2 separate regions of the Homo sapiens genome follow, and region 1 is linked to region 2. The links come from fine-mapping of genetic effects on gene expression. A gene starts in region 2. The other region holds a variant in brackets. All regions are shown on one strand. Distances are between the middles of the regions.

Region 1 (4,393 bases), 77 kb after region 2:
GGCCTCAAAGAATGTCCACAGATAAAGTTTTAAGGAGAACGAGCTTATAATAAAAATTCACAAGACATACAAGGAAATAAAATACCATGAGTAAAAACCAACAGAAACAACAGATAAACAAAGAATCCAGACATTGGAATTATCAGACACAATATTTAAAAAACAAGTGGAAATGCAAATGCCCCAGAAACATGAAAATATATTCATCCCCAATAGATACTAGGGAAATGCAAATGAAATTCTCATTGATACATCAATTCATATTCATCAGATTGACAGCAATGTTTTCAGTTGGCATTACCAGTTTGGCATCAGCTAGTTTGTGCATGTAAACATGTTCATACCCTCCATTCCTAGGTTATACCCTAGAGAAACTCTTACATATGTGCCAGGAGATGTAGACCAGAATGTCCATAGTAGTACTGCTTATAATTTTTAAAAACCTGAGAATAATGCTAATGATCCCCAATATTAAAACTGATACATTGTGCTGTATTCATACAATGCCAGACTACAGAGCAGTGAAAAAAAATAATGCACCTATTTGCATCACCATGGATGAATCTCAGATATAATATTGAACAAAAGAATCAAGTCATAGAAGATGTATGCAGTATGAGTCAGTCCATTTACATAAGTAAAAAAGGGTATATGTTGTTTAAAGATACATACAAAGGTGATAAAACAGAAATGAAAGGCAAAGGAATAATTATCGTGAAATTCAGGACAGTGGTTGTCCCTGGGAGGGGTGGGTAGCAAGGAAGTACGATCGAGGTAGACAATCGAGGGGTTTCTCAAGTACCTGGTGACATTTATTTTCTTAACCTGGGTAGTAGGTTCATGGGTGTTCACTTATCCTTTTTTAAAACGTACATTTTATACACACTTTTGTATGTATTCTGTATTTTATAAAAAATAAAATTAAATAAGAAATTATTCTTATAGTCCTTTTCTAACCCATGGGGCCTTCTGCTAGAATTTTGTGCTGTTCACATTCTCAATGCCAGCTTCCTTAGCCATAAAGTAAAAGGGTCCAGGGATTTGTAGCAGTTCTTCAGGGCTGCCGCACTCTATAATCTTCCCGTTGTCTAGGACCATTACCCTGAAACAAGGAAGAAAGAAATAAAAGTCTTAGAAAGCAGCATCTCAAGTCTAGGCATTTATAAGAATAACCAGGACTAAGTTGTGGTATAGTCAGACAAGGCTACAAAGCAGTGAAAATCAATGAGCCACAGCTACACACATCAACATGGATGAATTCTGCAAATAATATTGAACAAAAGAATCAAGTAATAGAAGAATACAGGCAGTATGAGTCCATTTACATGAGTTTTTAAAAGAAGTGCACATTGTTTAAGGATAGATTGGTTTACAAAGGGTGCCTATCATCTCCAAACAGCTTTCTAAGATTACTGACTTTTGATTGTAATATGACACAGCTGGAAGGAATAGAAAGCTTCTGGCTGTTTTACAGAGCAGCAGCTGAGGCTCAGGACAGTTAGGAAGGTCTATGGTCAACATCTGCCTCTCACGGCTTGAGCTTCCACCTCCCCATACCCAGTTAATTGTTACAACACACAGTTTCCTATTTTGCCCTCAAGATATGAATAGTTCCCTTAACCTTGTTCGTTTTCATTTGCGTGATGTAAAATTTTGGCCAGATTACTTGACATCTCTAAGTCTCAGTTTCTTCATCAGTAATGTGGTGGTGGTTAAACCTTCTGCCATCAGGTGTTTCCCGGCTGACACTGTTACTGTTGAGCAAGGGTTAAGCCATCCGTGTCAAGCCCTGTCCCCCTACACTCACTTGTCACTGTCCATGATGGTGTGCAGCCTGTGGGCGATGGTGATCACTGTGCAGTGGGCGAACTCGTTTTGGATGGTCGTCTGAATGAGGTTGTCTGTCTCTAGATCCACCGCAGCAGTGGCCTCATCCAGGACCAGGATCTTGGATTTCCGAAGCAGAGCCCTGCCCAGGCACAGCAGCTGCCTCTGGCCTATGCTGCAGCCAATAGAAGCAACCATGTGTTAGCTCCTAAAGACCAAGGAAAGACGCAGGGCAGGGGGACCATTTTCATGTTCCAGATCAGACTTTCAAAACCCCCCCTCCAAAATTCCCCTGGAATGTTTGGGCCTCTTCAACTAGCTGTACCTTGCTGCTGTGAGCATCGTTTTTCAAACTTTCCCAATTGAAGACCCACCCCAAGTACTTAATTAAAAAGTCATATTTCTGGGCCCTTGCTTTGCTCAATCAGAGCGGGCAGGAGCCTAGGAAGGTGCCTTTTTACTAAGCACCCCAGGCCATTTTTATGCTTAAACAAGTTTGGATAACAATGGCCCAGGAACCATGCTTTGTATTTGGTTGCCGTGACATCAACATTTCCAAAACAACATGAGTGTCACCAAGTTTACGTTAGCAGCATTTGACCTGAAGCCATTAATATAGGGTGGAGCAACACTAGAATGCCCCAGTGGCATTTCTTTGTGGCCTTAGCAAATCAATTTATTATTTTAATGTGTAATTCTAGCCTCAAGGCTAATTATTTGTTCAAGG[C/T]CTTCTGCTTTGATTAGAGATGAAGCTGTCTAATGAACGTGATGTCTTGGTGTGAGATGCAATGTATGTGGAATTCAAATATGCTTCTAAAATGCAAATAGCTTTAATTTGCTAAAAGCCTGTAATGAAGGCTGGACCTCTTACCTAACATAAAGAAGCTTTGGGAAATGATGTGAAGGAAATATTCAGGAATTTGCTAATTGCTCTTTCCTGCTGTGGCCATTAGGGAACATATTAAACAGGGGGTGGCCAAAGTGCTGTAATTCTCTGTAAGAAAATTTCTGCAGGAGATGAGAAGTCACCCAAGATGAACTTCCAGTTTTCCCCTGTAATGTAAGATCAGAGACACTGAAAAACTATTTACTTAGCTTGTACCAAACTCCTGCCTGGCCCAAAGTGTAACGTAGACTTTGGACTTTAGAGTAACAGACTGTTGCTGAGGCGCCACTTTGTCTTTCAGCTGCTCTCTCCAAGCTGAACTTACCCATCATTCAACAGAGAAATGTAAGTTTTAGTCCCCCAGGCCAGGTTTGAAACTCAGGTCTGAAATCAAGGCATTGGTAATACCATTTAAGCATCTCTCAGCTTGGACAGGAGAAAGATGGCATGATTTTTGTTTTTACAAACCAGAAATGTCAAGGCCTCCCATTGTACCCTACCATAGCATCCCAAATGTACCCTCTGTAGCACAGACTGTACTGGCATTTACTGACAGAGGTCTGTCTTCATTATGCTGTAAATGCTAGGAAGTCAGGGTTGTGTCTCTGTTTGCCTCTGTATTTTCAGTACCTGGCACACAGTAGGTGTACATATATTTTCGAGACGGAGTTTCGCTCTTGTCTCCCAGGCTGGAGTGCAATGGCGCAATCTCAGCTCACCACAACCTCCGCCACCCGGGTTCAAGCGATTCTCCTGCCTCAGCCTCCTGAGGGATTACTGCTGGGATTACAGGCCTGTGCCACCATGCCCCACTAATTTTGTATGTTTAGTAGAGATGGGGTGTCTCCACGTTGGTCAGGCTGGTCTCGAGCTCCCGACCTCAGGTGATCCGGCTGCCTCGGCCTCCCAAAGTGCTGGGATTACAGGCATGAGCCACTGCGCCCGGCCGGTGTTATTACATTTTTGCTGACTGAATGTTTGAATGATCTTTTACACTGGCCTAAAGACCTACTTGAGTCCTGCTAGTTGCTAGATCTGTTGTGGAGGGAAAGTAAACTGACGATGTTCTCTACCAGGGCTTGTTCCCTGGGGCTACACACTAAAATCACCTGGGTCCCCGATTCAGTTGGTCTGGGCTACAGTTTAGGCGTTGGGAGCTTTAAAGCTTCCTGGGTGATTTTAGCTTGCAGCCTAGTTAATCACAACACTCTAGGCAGTGCTTCTCAAGTGTAATGTGCACACAAATCACCTGGGAATCTTGCTAAAGTGCGGATTCTGATGAGTAGGTCTACGCCCTGAGATTCTGCACATGTAACAAGCTCCCAGGTGAAGCCAGAGTGGCTGGCCCCTGAATCAGTTACTGAGCCCTCCCTTCCTTCCTGAGCTTCAACTTGCCAACGGCCTATTCCCTGCCTACCACCACTGAGGCCCCTGGGGCAGGAGCAAGACCTGTCCATGAGCAGTGGGCTTTGGCTGAGGGCAGAACTTCAGTGTGTGGAAGGAAAAACAAAAATGTTACAGGAAAAATGCCAGATCAACTTATTAATGGACAGGCAAACATACACTGAAGGCCAGAAGTGAACTGTCAATTATATAAAAATGTTTTGGAAAGGTTAAAAATAACTGTGAAAGCCAAGAGAGTCTTTTGTTGATTTCAGGTGTTTCAACAGTGCCTACGGA
Region 2 (4,393 bases):
ATTTGGGGATTCCTCAGAGCTCGTCATTAGAGAAGAACATCTGGCATTTAGAGGAAGAGAAAAAATTAAATGGCCCAGAGACTTGGAGAAGGAATAGTTGCCTCCGCCGCACAGCACCCAGCACCCTGAGGCGCTCAGAGTTCGTGCAAAACAGCAAGAAAACCCAAGGTATGAACTCAGCCAGCCTTCTTAAGATAAAGCATAAAGATAGATTTAAAGGGTAGTTATACCAGGTACTAGGAGCACTTGTGTTCTTAAGGAGCCCGGGCCCTGAACTTCTTATCAAGTGCACCTTGAGTGAGAACAACCTTAGAGATTTAATTACTTTGGAAGGCATTGTACAGAGCAAGAGTATATATACAGTGCTAAAAATATGCAACATTCGGATAGCGCTCTCATGGGAACTTTTATTTACGCTTCCTGGTTTTTTCAGATGTCTCTAATCTCAAGTATCTTTCCTTTCTTACTTTCATGTTTTTGTTCATCTTGTCGAGGCAGCAAGTTTATTATCAGGGCATCAAGCTAAAATTCATTTTCCTGGCATGTTTTTTTTTTTTTCTCTCAGTCTCTACACTTCTTTGGACATTAATGGAAAAGAAGACTTGACTTTATTTTTATTTATTTATTTTTTTGAAACAAGATCTCATTCTGTCCCCCTGGCTGGAGAACAGTGGCACGGTCATGGCTCACTGCAGCCTCAAACTCCTGGGCTCAAGAGATCCTCCCACTTTAGCCTCCTGAGTAGCTGGGACTATGGGTACATGCCACCATGCCCGGCTACTTTTTTATTTTTTTGTAGGGGCAGGGTTTCACCATGTTGCCCAGGCTGATCTTGAACTCCTGGGCTTGAGCGAACCACCCACCTCTGCTTCCCAAAGTACTGGGATTACAAGTGTAAGCCACCATTGCCAGGCCTTCATTTTAATTTTTTTTTTTTACCGCTCCTTTCAGAGCAGGGCTACCCCATAGGCAGTGTGCCCAGAGTAGCCCTGATTTGTTTTATAGATTGTTCACTCCTTGACATTCAGGAATCTTAAGTGAATGATGAGTACTGACACTCTTGTGGATTCCAGAAGATTATTTCTAGCTTTCAAATCACTTCATCTCACTGAGCCTTAACTACGTTGTCTGTGAAATGAGAATATTAGGAGTCTTTTATCATGTAGAGGTTCTTTCTTTCTTGCCATTATATCTTTTCTTCAGTTCTCATAAGTGAGCTTTATTTCTACTGTGTTATTTTTATAATTACTGAACTCTCTGTTAAACCTTTCGTGTGTGTGTATGCTGTATGTTGTCTTCATGCCAAACGGCCTTTCTGGTTCTGGCCAATTTTGGGGTCCAGGCTGTGACCAGAGGATAAAGGTTAGTCAGAGAATGTGAATGATCTGAAAAATCCATCTCATGCCCTCCCCTTAAGTAGAAAGTTTCTCGTCTAGGTCTCCTTCAGAATGGGCTGGCTGGTTAGATTTGTACTAGGGGCCACCACAGACTGAAAAGATAAGCCTGCTATGGTCCTGGGATGGCCGGTGGTTTACCTGGTGGTCTTCCAACATGGGCTTGACTTAACTTGAATTTCTGGGGCACCATTTTGGACCTAACAGGCTCTTAACCTGCACCTATAAAGACAAAAATGAAACCAAACCCAGCTTTAGTTGGGAGGCTGAGGTTTTTAGCAGCTAGTCATTTTTTCCTAGGTGCATTTTCTCTCTGAAATGATAGGGACTGGATAACTTCTAAATTCCTTCCAGCTAAAAAAGAAAAAAGTCTGATTCTGTGATTCTTTATATTGGTTTTTGTATTGTTCCTCTTCCCTTCCCCCCGCATCTGTTCCTTTGGTGAACTTTGTTTCCTATGTTTAGTTCCTTATTGTATTAAGCCTCCCAACTGTAATCAAAGTGTGTTTATTCTGTTTGACTTAACAGGAGTGAAACCCTTCTCTCTGCAGTGTTGTAATGTGCCCTCTGATCTCCCTGAAACCAGCTCGGTTCCACCCAATATCATTTCCATTTCTACAACTCTCTTTATCTTTGAGGACTTAACTTTTGAAAGTATATTCATATTTAGTTCACCCCTTTTTGTACCCCTAATATCCTTCTTGACCTATAACAAATTCTGTCTTTACTAGAAATCTTTCAGCATTCTAACGTTCTTTGTTAGCTCTCTCACGCCATTGCCCTTCCTGAATATTACAAGGGAACACTGTGTAATTACACAAAGGAACAAGCATCAGAGTTGGTCTGCCCTGAGTTCAAATCTCAGCTCCACCATTTACTAAATGGCCTTAACTTGACAAAAATTACTTAACCTCTTGGAGCTTCGGATTCTCAATTTGTAAAGTGAAGATAATACCTCTCTCATAATGAGATAGAAAAATAAAACAGTCACATATCCGGAACATAGTAGGTGCTCATAAATGGCCATTTCTTTGTGTTTTATCTGCCCACCTCCCTTCCCCTTTATAAGTTGCGCCACCCACCTGTCACTCCATGGTTTCGTCTCTGAGTTCCAGATTGATAGTCCCTGCTCCCTGTTGGACATCTACCCTAGACCGTAAACACTTCAAGTTTGATTGTCTAAGTGGAATGTCCTGTCCCTTCCTCTTCTCCCGTCTTCCCCTTGCCACCCCTCCTCCATCTGAGACAGAGCTCTGTTCAGTGGCTGCTCTCCAGCCTCTCCCCCAGGCAGGAAGCCAAGTTTTCCCCCAGGCTTTCCTTTCTCACCGGCCTGATCAGTCATTCTCCTGAGGCCTCCATCTGAGGTTTTTTTAGGGCAGGTCTGTTAGGGGTTTGCTCTTAGTCCTAGGGTGTGGACCTCTAGTTCTGAGAGGTGGGCCTTATTCCTAAGGTGTGGCCCTTCGGAGGTTTCAACAGAAAACTGGAAGTGTTTATTGAACCTCCTAACTTGGAGGGACTCAAATTTCAAACTGTGTCTTCCCAGAGCCAGACAGTTGGTGAAGATCTATCTGCTGGGCTCTTCTGGCCTCCAGCTTTCCACGGGGTTCCTTGGAGTCTCATCACCTGCATGCACAGTTGAAGGATTGAGAGGCATTTCTGCACAGATTTTGGGGCTCTCCTCTCTGTGGCTTACTGTTTTCCAGGATTTCCCCCTTAATAGCTAATGTCTTCAGAGCCCCCAGACTGGAACCTTTGGCTGCTCAGCCCAGTAAGATTGCCCCATGTGGGCTTTCTTCTTTTGCTTTATTTCCCGGCGTCCTAAAAGACTAGGGAGTGCCCTGAGGGGAGGACTGGAGACAGGTGCATCTTACCTAGTTTGCTTCCCTTGTTTTGAGTCATATCCCCTCCAAATTCTGCCTGCTTTTGATTGCTTTTCAGTGCCTGCATATAGTTATTTTTTAAAATATCTGTCAGAAGGCTGAGGTGGGAGGATCACTTGAGCCTGGCAGGTCGAGGCTATAGTGAGCTATGATGATGCCACTATACTGCAGCCTGGGTGACAGAGTGAGACCACATCTCTAGAAAAATAAAAGTAAATAAAAGTTAAAAAAATAAATCTTGTAAAGTGTTTTTGGTAGTTATAAGTAGGGAGATTAGTACAATGTGAGCTACTCTACCATTACTAGACCAAGTGTGGGCACTAGGGTTTTGCACTTGCTAATAACATACATGGTTATGATGAGAAGGGGACCTGGTGTTTCAAATTCCACGTTACCTGTTTTGCATGTAAATAATATTAGGATATCTAAATGAAGAGCTCTTACAGAGAAAACTATGAAACTAGAGAGGGCTCTAAACAAAACTAGAGAGGGCTAAAGGTTCAGGGTTGGAAGGCTACAAAATAGGAGCCTCTTATGTTATTACTGGAAGGAAGCTTATATAGCCACAATCCCATGTTTTTGTAAATAATGGGTAGCCACTCATGACTGGGTCTTGAAGTCTGTTTGGGGGTTGCAATCAGCAGTTCTGAAAAATAAAAGTAAATAGAAAAAACTTTCATACTACATTCTATGTAGTAAAAGTAAGCATGTAATACTTTGTGTATGTGTATGTGTATAGACATAAATGTATTATGTAAATGTGAGTTACAGCCTAAAGTGTGGGTCAGGCCAGGCACAGTGGCTCACGCCTGAAATACCAGCACTTTGGGAGGCCGAGGTGGGCAGATCACTTGAGGTCAGGAGTTTGAGACCAGCCTTGCCAACATGGTGAAACCCCCTGTGTACAAAAATACAAAAATTAGCTGGGCATGTTGGTGGGCGCCTGTAGTCCCAGCTACTCCGGAGGCTGAGGCGGGAGAATCGCTTGAACCCAGGAGGTGGAGGTTGCAGTGAGCTGAGATTGTGCCACTGCACTCCAGCCTGGGCGACAGAGTGAAACTGTGTCTCAAAAAAATAAAATAAAAAATAAAGTGTGGGTCACAGTAAAAAATGTTTGAA

Direction of the effects. Positions count from the first base shown, and alleles are read on the strand shown. Sizes are in standard deviations (SD) of each study's normalised expression.
As copies of C replace T in region 1, the expression in breast of the gene that starts at base 2,571 in region 2 goes up (moderate effect, 0.49 SD a copy in GTEx).

What was found. PIP is the estimated chance that this variant, and not a neighbour inherited with it, causes the effect. A credible set is the group of variants that fine-mapping cannot tell apart.
Region 1: its variant is the best candidate, but not a certain one, in a credible set for the expression of DNMBP-AS1 in breast (GTEx, PIP 0.70).

Annotation. Positions count from the first base shown.
Region 1 is chr10:99,848,211-99,852,603 of GRCh38, reverse strand. It overlaps ABCC2 (ATP binding cassette subfamily C member 2), which reads right to left. Exons shown (of 32, transcript NM_000392.5): 31 at 1,808-2,002; 32 at 10-1,102. The coding sequence ends at 973. Among named protein-coding and RNA genes, the nearest start is that of ABCC2, 68 kb to the right of the region's middle. RefSeq lists a silencer at 2,218-2,512 and an enhancer at 2,058-2,738. The variant C/T (reference allele first, on the strand shown) is at 2,555.
Region 2 is chr10:99,925,383-99,929,775 of GRCh38, reverse strand. DNMBP-AS1 (DNMBP antisense RNA 1) reads right to left here and starts at 2,571. Exons shown (of 5, transcript NR_024130.3): 1 at 2,477-2,571; 2 at 1,536-1,616. The region is part of intron 4 of DNMBP (dynamin binding protein); the gene reads left to right.